Linked DNA regions of Homo sapiens. The protein of the gene in region 1 interacts with the protein of each later gene in a biochemical or structural test. Each region holds a gene or a part of one and is shown on either strand. Other genes may lie near its edges. The genes, in order: S100A8, SLC8A1 and TRPM4.

What was found.
Region 2: the proteins of S100A8 (region 1) and SLC8A1 interact in a biophysical measurement, tested with the Homo sapiens proteins (one large-scale study listed by IntAct).
Region 3: the proteins of S100A8 (region 1) and TRPM4 interact in a biophysical measurement, tested with the Homo sapiens proteins (one large-scale study listed by IntAct).

The regions. Positions count from the first base shown.
Region 1 is NC_000001.11:153,389,461-153,392,621, reverse strand, and holds S100A8 (protein S100-A8), read left to right. Parts: upstream 1-1,581; intron 1,582-1,645; exon of another isoform or gene 1,646-1,765; intron 1,766-2,047; coding exon of another isoform or gene 2,048-2,086; coding exon 2,087-2,227; intron 2,228-2,378; coding exon 2,379-2,519; 3' UTR 2,520-2,590; downstream 2,591-3,161. UniProt on the Homo sapiens protein: S100A8 is a calcium- and zinc-binding protein which plays a prominent role in the regulation of inflammatory processes and immune response. It can induce neutrophil chemotaxis and adhesion.
Region 2 is NC_000002.12:40,431,572-40,435,223, reverse strand, and holds part of SLC8A1 (sodium/calcium exchanger 1 isoform A precursor), read left to right. Parts: intron 1-3,652. UniProt on the Homo sapiens protein: Mediates the exchange of one Ca(2+) ion against three to four Na(+) ions across the cell membrane, and thereby contributes to the regulation of cytoplasmic Ca(2+) levels and Ca(2+)-dependent cellular processes.
Region 3 is NC_000019.10:49,195,660-49,199,311, forward strand, and holds part of TRPM4 (transient receptor potential cation channel subfamily M member 4), read left to right. Parts: intron 1-780; coding exon 781-1,215; intron 1,216-3,652. UniProt on the Homo sapiens protein: Calcium-activated selective cation channel that mediates membrane depolarization. While it is activated by increase in intracellular Ca(2+), it is impermeable to it.

The DNA.
Region 1 (3,161 bases):
AACATTTTCTTCATCCATTCATGTGTTGAGGGACACTTGGGTTGCTTCCACCTTTTGGCTCTTGTAAATAATGCTGCTATGAACATGAATGTACAAACATCTGTTTGAATCCCTGCATTCAATTCTTTTGCATATATACCCAGGAGCAGAATGATGGATCATATGGTAATTCTGTGTTTATTTATTTGAGGAACAAACTTGCCGTTTTCCATAACAGCTGCACTATTTTACATTCCCACTAACAGTGCATTAGGCTTCCAATTCTCTATGCCCTCACCAACACTTGTTTTCTGGGTTTTAAAAGAAGTAGTAGTCATCCTTGTAGGTGTCAGGTGGTATCTCATTGTCGTTTTGCTTCATGTTTTCCTAAAGATTAGTAATTTTCATATGCTTATTGACCATTTGTATATCTTCTTCGGAGAAGTGTCTATTTGAGTCTTTTCCCCAATTTTTGATTGGTTTGTTTGTTTTTTGTTGTTGAGTTGTAGGGATTCTTTTATATTCTGGATATTAATCCCTTATCAGATATTTGTTTTACAAATATTTTCTTTGTAACAACAGAAACACACCACAGTCTTCAAGGTTGGAAGCCAGTTAATCTGAGTAGCATTTTGTTAGTGGTGGGGAGAGGATTTGTTCCTCCTGAAATCCTGGGGAATTGGCCACCTCCTCTTCTCCTCTTAGGCATGAAGCGCGTCTGGCTTCTCCAAAGAACTCTTCCCCTCCACTACCTCAGAGTTAGCTTCCTCTCTTCAGCCAGTGATCCTGGGGTCCCAGACACAATAATTAACCAAGAGAGGGTGAAAGGCTCCCTGCTGTGTTTATGCAATGGCTCAGGCCCTTGTGAAGTGCCGAGGGACCCCAAGCAGCCTCCATCTCCCAGGGCATGGTCCATCCCCAGCTTCACAGAACAGGAAAGCTGTGGAGGAGTGTGGGCAGCAGGGTAGGAATGGATATAGCCCTTGGCAACAACACATTTCCCCACAAAGCACCCACCCAAAAGAACAACAACGATAGTTTTAGTTTTTAGTAATGAGAACAATAGTTCTCATGACTAAAAGCCATCAGCCAGGACACGTGTTCTCAACCCTTTTGCGGTCTTTGGACCCTTTGAAACTCTGACAGAAGCCATGGAGGAATGTTCTCACTGAGTGCATGCACTCAAAATGATGCATTCAACTTCAATTCAGTTTCAGGGATGTATGGCCTGACCACCAATGCAGGGGATTAGCAATCGCAATAGTGGAGAGGGCATGGGAGTGGGAATCTGGCTGGATCAAGCAAGTGGATGCCAGCAGCCCAGAAAAAGAGCCCCCCTACCTGCTTTTTCCTTCTGGGCACTATTGCCCAGCAAATGCCTTCCTCTTTCCGCTTCTCCTACCTCCCCACCCAAAATTTTCATTCTGCACAGTGATTGCCACATTCACCTGGTTGAGAAACCAGAGACTGTAGCAACTCTGGCAGGGAGAAGCTGTCTCTGATGGCCTGAAGCTGTGGGCAGCTGGCCAAGCCTAACCGCTATAAAAAGGAGCTGCCTCTCAGCCCTGCATGTCTCTTGTCAGCTGTCTTTCAGAAGACCTGGTAAGTGGGACTGTCTGGGTTGGCCCCGCACTTTGGGCTTCTCTTGGGGAGGGTCAGGGAAGTGGAGCAGCCTTCCTGAGAGAGGAGAGAGAAAGCTCAGGGAGGTCTGGAGCAAAGATACTCCTGGAGGTGGGGAGTGAGGCAGGGATAAGGAAGGAGAGTATCCTCCAGCACCTTCCAGTGGGTAAGGGCACATTGTCTCCTAGGCTGGACTTTTCTTGAGCAGAGGGTGGGGTGGTAAGGAAAGTCTACGGGCCCCGTGTGTGTGCACATGTCTCTGTGTGAATGGACCCTTCCCCTTCCCACACGTGTATCCCTATCATCCCACCCTTCCCACCAGAGCCATAGCCATCTGCTGGTTTGGTTATTTGGAGAGTGCAGGCCAGGACAAGGCCATCGCTTGGGGCATGAATCCTCTGCGTACTGCCCTGGCCAGATGCAAATTCCCTGCCATGGGATTCCCCAGAAGGTTCTGTTTTTCAGGTGGGGCAAGTCCGTGGGCATCATGTTGACCGAGCTGGAGAAAGCCTTGAACTCTATCATCGACGTCTACCACAAGTACTCCCTGATAAAGGGGAATTTCCATGCCGTCTACAGGGATGACCTGAAGAAATTGCTAGAGACCGAGTGTCCTCAGTATATCAGGGTGAGGAGGGGCTGGGTGTGGCGGGGGCTCTCTGCCTGGTCCTGGGGCTGCCCTGGGCCAGCGGTCCTCCCTGCCACCCTTCATAGATGGCTATGCCTCGGCTCTCTCTGAGATCTTTAAACTCTGGCTTCTTCCTCCTCAATCTTGACAGAAAAAGGGTGCAGACGTCTGGTTCAAAGAGTTGGATATCAACACTGATGGTGCAGTTAACTTCCAGGAGTTCCTCATTCTGGTGATAAAGATGGGCGTGGCAGCCCACAAAAAAAGCCATGAAGAAAGCCACAAAGAGTAGCTGAGTTACTGGGCCCAGAGGCTGGGCCCCTGGACATGTACCTGCAGAATAATAAAGTCATCAATACCTCATGCCTCTCTCTTATGCTTTTGTGGAATGAGGTTCCTCGGTGTGGAGGGAGGGTTGGAAAACCCAAAGGAAGAAAAAGAAATCTATGTTATCCCACCCTACCTCTCACAAGCCTTTCCTGCTTTACCCCTCACCTGGCCTCTGCCCCACATTCCCTTCCAGCCCCTCCATCTTGAGCCATTGGATTTGAGGCTTAAGGATTCCAAAAAGTCCATGACACTATAGCTGATGATTTTACTAGTGGTTCTGAAATGGGTCGGGGATTTGGGAACAGGGTGGTAGTATAAGAACAACTGATACTGTTCTCTAAGCTAAATTTTAGCTTCCAGCTAAATGTCTTAGATGTGGCTCTTGGGAAATTAGAGTGATAGCTACATAGAAGTGTGTGGGTGTGTGTGTGTGTGTCTGTGTGTGTGTGTGTGAGAGAGAGACAGACAGAAAGAGAGCAAGAGAGGGAAGGGGGGAGAGGCTGATTGTGTGTGTGGTGTGATGTAGGTGGACAATGTTCAGAGTCCTCCATTAACAGGATAATCCTCACACCTGTCCACATACCTGTAGTTTGTCCTTGGGGAT
Region 2 (3,652 bases), on another chromosome or scaffold:
ATTAATTGCTTAGCTTTGAGTCTTTCAGTCAGCAAGAATTACATAGAAGGGAATTCCAAGTACTGATGAAGGCCATCAAGGAGTTCCTTGGAATAACCCCAGCTGCCAATCAAGAGGATGCCATTAGGATGACTGTCCAATATATTGGGCTGTTAGGAATGCCAGCATATGCCTTTGCTCTGAGTCACGTCCTCCTTGGTAGTCAAAACTGGCTATAGCTTCCAGCAGGGAATGGTCACCGTGCTGCCAACCACTCTTCAGGCCTCTGCTCCAAAAGCTCTCCCTCTTCCTTTACAAAGCAGTTGGATCTATCTCTTGTAGATGTGGGTTTCTATTCCTTGTAGCTGTGACCTCTTCCTCCGACACAACTGGCTGGACTACTCACAGCTGGATATCTTTTTACCATCCTTTGTCAGTGTCATTTGGGTCTGTAATCTGTGGGTGATGGGTTGTGTGTTGTTTTAAAATAAATAGTGATCAGAAGATAATTTGGGTATTCTTGATACTGTGCTAAAGTCTCATTTCATGATGTAATGGATATTTTAAGTTAGTACTGCTCACAGTTGTACGAGTTGATCTGAATCCACCATAAAAATCAGCCTATACTTTGTATTGGTAAATTAAGGCAGAATATAAGAAAGCCAGGCAGCAAATCAACATATCCACAGTCTCTATTCTTATCTTTCTGCTTAATTTGTATGGAAATGTATATTTGAGGGAAAATGGGGAGAGTTTAGTAGAACTACTTTGAATCTGATGATAGAGGAAAGACCCCGAAAGAAAGAAAACAAAAGGATGAAGAAGGAACTCACATTTAGATAACATCTATTCCACATCTTCGTGGGCATTTGAATTTGGTATTAATTTAATAAGAAAAAGAAATTTAAGTCCAGAGAGTTCTTTCCAATTGCTTCATTGCCAATAAGCTACATCAGTGTGCTGTGTCCACTGTTCACAAATTATAATACTGCTCTCTTTTGAATATAATTGTAATGTTTTTAGTTAACACCGGAAGCCCCCTTCCTTTTTCTCTGATAATGATGATGGATTTTTACTGACCTGTCTACCTTTAGACATCTGGTGACCTTTTGGCTAAGAACATATTGTGGGATGTGGGCTAGGGAAGGGATAAAGGGCAGGGCTTTTTCTTGGCTGGCCCAGGAGATTGCCCTGACAGTGCATGCAGGAAGAGGTTGCCAGGCAATTGCTAAAAGACCAGATTGAAGGGCAGCTGTCTCTAGGAACATGCTAGCCCTCATGTTACATCACAGTTATTGATGCTTGTCTGTTTGAGTCTAATGCATAAGATAAAAGCCAGGCTATTGGAAACCTTCCACAAGACTTTTGCTAACTAGGCCCTCCTGACCCTGCATGGAAGCCAAGAGGCTTTCCAACGGGCTAGTCCAAGCCAACCCCAATAGTTCTCAAAGATTACTTCACACACTATCAGGGATGATATAATGGAGCAGTTAGTTATATCAGTCTTGGAAAAAGACCAGGGGTTGGGTCTTAGTTGAGGAGTTTACTGTCTGTATGACTTTCAGCAAGTACTTAACCTATCTAAGCCTCAGTTATCCAACCTCCAAATGGGCTAATAGTACCTACTATTTAGGATTATTGTTAGGGTACTGTGCATTGCACATCTCCAGGGGTGCTGTTCTCATGGACTATAATGGAAATAGCAACACTAGGCATTTTATAACAGCAATGCTGGCTAATGGAAATATTAAATATAATTGATATGTATAGAGACAATTTAGCATGGTATCTGTGACTGTTTAAGAATGGAATCTAGTATTCTCTCAGGAAATTGGTTATAATTTGGTGTTCAGCTCTTTTGAAACTTGCTTCTAAGAAGGAAAAAGCAAAATAGTTTTGGACACAGAATAATCTGCAAAGACTTGGATGTAAGAAATTGTTACCTTGTTCAGGGAATGGGAATAATTTCCATATTCTGGAGCTCAGATGCCAGATCATAAAAGGTCTTAGAAAGCCTGTTGAGGGGTTTGAGCTTTGTCCTCAGGGAAGTGGGAAACCAATGAAGAGTTTTAAGGGACGTGAAGAGTGTCAGATCTGCACTTTAGGAATTTCATTTTGGCTGAAACGTGAAGAATGGAATGATGCGATTTGGCAGTAATTTGAAGGGAGTGGTTAGTTATATCAGTCTTGGAGACAGACACAGGTTTGAATCTCCCTTCAGTGTTTATGTTCAGTACTACTATTTATCACAAATATTTCACCTTTCTGATTCTTTCAGGTCCCCAAGACATTTCTTTCACCATTTTAAATGTTAAATATCTTCTGTACCATTTTGTATACCTGCCAAGTATTGGGATCACTTATAAATTAGATTTTATATAGTAGGCAAAATCTGGTCTCCTTGTTTCCACCCTTGCCCCTTCAGTCTTTTCTGCACTGAACCAGCAGAGAGATCCTTCTAAAAGAAAAATCAGATCATATCACCCTCTGATTAGAACCTCCCAGTGATTCTCATCTTCTACCCCATCAAAGCCCATGCCTTATGGCAATTCAGTGTTCTCTGATCCATTCCCACTCCTGAGCCCTGCCCCCTTGGTCCATTACCCTCTTGCTACATTGGTTTTCTGTGTTTTTAGACTGTGCCAAGCATGATTCCCATTAGGACCTTTGCACTTGCTGGAATTCTTTTCCTACAGATATCCACAAAACTTGATCTTTCGTGTCCTTCAGGACTTTGCTCAAGTGTTACCTTATCAGAGAGGCCTTCCTTAACCATCTAGTATGAAATCATGCATCCCACGTGTATACACACTGACACATACACACACACACACACACACACAATCTCACACTCTCCTTGTCCTCTATAGATTGTTCTGCACACACATGTACCATAGGAGTTTTTAACCTTCTGATATTTATATTTGTTTGTTTCCTCCACCATTAGAATATAAGCTCTGTGAGGACAGAGACTTTGTTTTATCACTGGTGAATTCTCAGGATCTAGAAGACAGACTAGTAAGTCTTTCTAAAATACATATTAAGCATGCATAAATATTGTGGATGAAATGGATACACAAGGGAGTTGGAACTAGATCTTCCAACATTCTTGCAGGATGGTTAAATTTCACCTTGTTTCAAGCAGAAATCTCAAAGCCTTTCAAAGACTGAACAAGCAGACATACTGACCAGAACTTTTGCATATTTTGAAAATATGCTACCTCTATTTTTCAGCCTTTTACTTAGTTTTGAATTCTACTGCTATAACCCTCCTCTGATTTTCTTTAGTATGGGAAAAATGTCAAAGAAGCTTATCTCCCTGTAGTGATGAGCTATAAAGGGCTTTAGTCTATGGTGGGATCTCTCAGGGTCTGCCAGAATGTCCTAGGCAGCGGTGTTCTCCTGGGCACTGGTGCAGTTTGCAGTATAAGCCATCAGCAGCAAACATGAGCCAGAGAGTGTAGGCGAATGTGGGGTGGCTCTCAGCCAGCCCGAAGCTATGAAAGCCTGTAATCCAGTTCCTCTTTTAACTTTTTCCAGGACATAAGGGTATGTTCTGACTCAGGGCTTCTTCCTATTGCTGCTTTATCTGATGTCATAACTAGTCCATCCTGCAAGGCCTGGGAGACAGTCACCTTGACTTGGAGCAGACCTTCCTCTACTTCAGTTTCCC
Region 3 (3,652 bases), on another chromosome or scaffold:
GCGCCCAGCCCGTTTCTACTTTAATTTTTTTTTTTTTTTTTTTAGACAGGGTCTCGCTCTATTGCCCAAGCTGGAGTGCAGTGGCATGTTCATGGCTGACTGCAGCCTGGGCCTCCTGTACTCAAGTGATCCTCCCATTTCAGCCTCCCCAGTAGCTGGGACTACAGGTGCTTGCCCCTACTACTGGCTAAATTTTTATTTTTATTTATTTTATTATTATTATTATTATTATTTTTGAGACAGAGTCTCACTCTGTCGCCTAGGCTGCAGTGCATTGCAACCTCTGCCTCCCAGGTTCAAGCGATTCTCCCGCCTCAGCCTCCCGAGTATGTGGGACTACTGGCATGCGCCACCAGACCCGGCTAATTTTTGTATTTTTAGTAGAGACAGGGTTTCACCATGTTGGCCAGGCTGGTCTCGAACTCCCTACCTCAGGTGATCTGCCCGCCTTAACTCCCAAAGTGCTGCGATTACAGGCGTGAGCCACCGCGCCCGATCCGGGTATATTTTTAAAATATTTTTTGTAGAGATGAGGTTTTGCCATGTTGGCCAGGCTGGTCTCCAACTCCTCGGCTCAAGCGATCAATCCACCTCTTGACCGGAGATTTCAGAGGTCAGAGGTTAGATACAAGAGTCAAAACCCAAGAAATTAGCTCTGGGCAGACTGAGTTTCGGGTCAGGCAGGGTGAGATGTGCCAAGCCAAAAGTCTCGATGATGGTGGAGATCAGGACTCAGAGGTCAGAGTGAGGCCTCCTCCCTTCTCTTCTCTTCCCCCACAGGACGGCGGACCCAGCCGAGAAGACGCCGCTGGGGGTCCCGCGCCAGTCGGGCCGTCCGGGTTGCTGCGGGGGCCGCTGCGGGGGGCGCCGGTGCCTACGCCGCTGGTTCCACTTCTGGGGCGCGCCGGTGACCATCTTCATGGGCAACGTGGTCAGCTACCTGCTGTTCCTGCTGCTTTTCTCGCGGGTGCTGCTCGTGGATTTCCAGCCGGCGCCGCCCGGCTCCCTGGAGCTGCTGCTCTATTTCTGGGCTTTCACGCTGCTGTGCGAGGAACTGCGCCAGGGCCTGAGCGGAGGCGGGGGCAGCCTCGCCAGCGGGGGCCCCGGGCCTGGCCATGCCTCACTGAGCCAGCGCCTGCGCCTCTACCTCGCCGACAGCTGGAACCAGTGCGACCTAGTGGCTCTCACCTGCTTCCTCCTGGGCGTGGGCTGCCGGTGAGTGCCCCGGGGCCTTGGAACCCTGGCCCCTGGCCACCTCTCATCCTTCCTGCCCACTCCCGGGGTCTCCACTCCCGGCTTCCCCGCAGCTGGGCAGCAGGTCAAGCCAACCCTGCTGATTGAGAACCCCTCTTAGGAAAGTCGGGCATGACGATTGCCCCAGGGTAATTGGCTGGCACCTGGAGATCTGGCTTCAGGGACGGCAGGATTCAGGAGAAAACCCCACTGTCCGCCACTCAGCCTCTGCTGCTATTTATTGCTAGGCCTGAAGTTTAACAGATATTTATGGGAGCGCCCCGACCTGGGTGCCAACCTCACCTCCTCCCTTCTCTTCCTCCACATAGCTCGTTGGTCCCAGGCCCCTTGCCCTCCTGCCCCCGACTTTTTCTTTCTTTCCTTTTTTTTTCTTTCTTTCTTTCTCTTTCTTTCTTTTTCTTTCTTTCTTTCTTTCTTTCTTTCTTTCTTTCTTTCTTTCTTTCTTTCTTTCTCTCTCTTTCTTTTCTTTCTTTCTCTTTTCTTTTCCTTTCTTTTCTTTTTCTTTTTCTCTTTTCTTTCTCTCTCTCTCCCTCTGTCCTCTGCCCCTCTGCCTCCCTCCCTCCTTCCTTCCTTCCTTCCTTCCTTCCTTCCTTCCTTCCTTCTATGCTTCCTTCCATCCCTCCAAGCTAAGGGTTTAACCCTTGCCCTGCCTGCATTATGGAGTATCCTGCATTAGGATACTCCTCCTTTTGAGGAGAGCAAACAGAAAAGTTTGTGGATACAACCTGGTGACTGGTTTTTTGTTTGTTTGTTTGTTTTTGTTTTCTTTCTTTTCTTTTTTTTTTTTGAGCCAGAGTTCCGCTGTGTCGCCCAGACTGGAGTGCAGTGGTACGATCTTGGCTCACTGCAACCTCCACCTCCTGGGTTCAAGCGATTCTCTTGCCTCAGCCTCGTGAGTAGCTGGGATTACAGGCATGCACCACTACACCTAGCTAAATTTTTTTTGTATTTTTTTTGTAGAGATGGGGCTTTGCCATATTGACCAGGCTGGTCTTGAACTCTTGGCCTCAAGTGATCCACTGGCCTTAGCCTCTGAAAGTGCTGAGATTACAGATGTGGGTCACCGTGCCTGGCCAACAACCTGGTGACTGTTTACAAGGGACCTGACACATCCTGAATGGTTGACAGTGATGACAGTGATGATCCCTACTCAAGCTTTTCCCAGTAGACACGCTGAGAGGCAGGCTTCCTCTAAGCTATGTTAGCAGTGTTACAAAGTGATTCAACATAAATAATTTATTCAAGCAGGGAGCAAGATATGAGAGTTTTGCAGAACACTAATACTTCTGTTTGTAATTTGTTGTATTTTGTATAAAGTGACTTTTGAGATGAAAGGGCTAAGGCCATATGCTACCATGCTCTAGGATTGCCAGTGATATTTTGGACAGTTTATCAAGCCTACCACTTTCCAGGTGAAAAATGGAAAGATCTCAGCTTAAAAGGGAGAAACGGGCCTGGCGTGGTGGCTCATGCCTGTAATCCCAGCACTTTGGGAGGCCGAGGCGGGTGGATCACCTGAGATCAGGAGTTTGAGACCAGCCTGCCCAACATGGTGAAACCCCATCTCTACTAAAAATACAAAAAATTAGCCGGGCATGGTGGCAGGCGCCTGTAATCCCAGCTACTCGGGAGGCTGAGGCAGGATAATTGCCTGAACCTGGGAGGCGGAGGTTGCAGTGAGCCAAGATCATGCCACTGCACTCTAGCCTGGGTGAAAAGAGCAAAACTCTGTCAAAAAAAAAAAAAAAAAAAAAAGGGAGAAATGTCTAATCATCTCCGGAATTGAATGGATGAATCATCCTTTGTTTCGCCAGTTCCCTCTAGATGGACATTTAGGTTCTCTCTTTCTTTCTTTTTTTGTTTTAAATAGAGACAGGGTCTCACTCTGTTGCCCAGGCTGGTCTCAAACTCCAGGGCTCAAGCAATCCTCCCACCTTGGCCTCTCAAAGTGCTGGGATTACAGGCGTGAGCTACTATGCTCAGCCTTCTGTTTTTTTATTATTCCAAAATAATAAAAGTTTACATCCCAGATGTAAAGTTTATGGGTCAAAGGGTACATTTATTTTTGACATGGATAGATTTCCTTCTAAGTAGCTTCACTCATTTCCACACCTGCCATCAGGGTAAGAGAGTGCCCCCTTGAGGCCATGCTCGACAATGCCTGATACTTTCACTCTAAAATGTAGCTCTCAATTTAACTGAAAAAAAATTTGCCAATTTAATGGGTAAACATGACCTCTCCTTGTTATAATTTATGCACTCTTGACTACCAGATAGGTTGGACATCTTTTCCTAAGCTTAATGGCCATATGTCCTTGTGCCCCCTTGTTTTTTTTTTGGTTTTTGTTTTTGTTTTTGTTTTTGAGACGGAGTCTCGCTCTGTAGCCCAGGCTGGAGT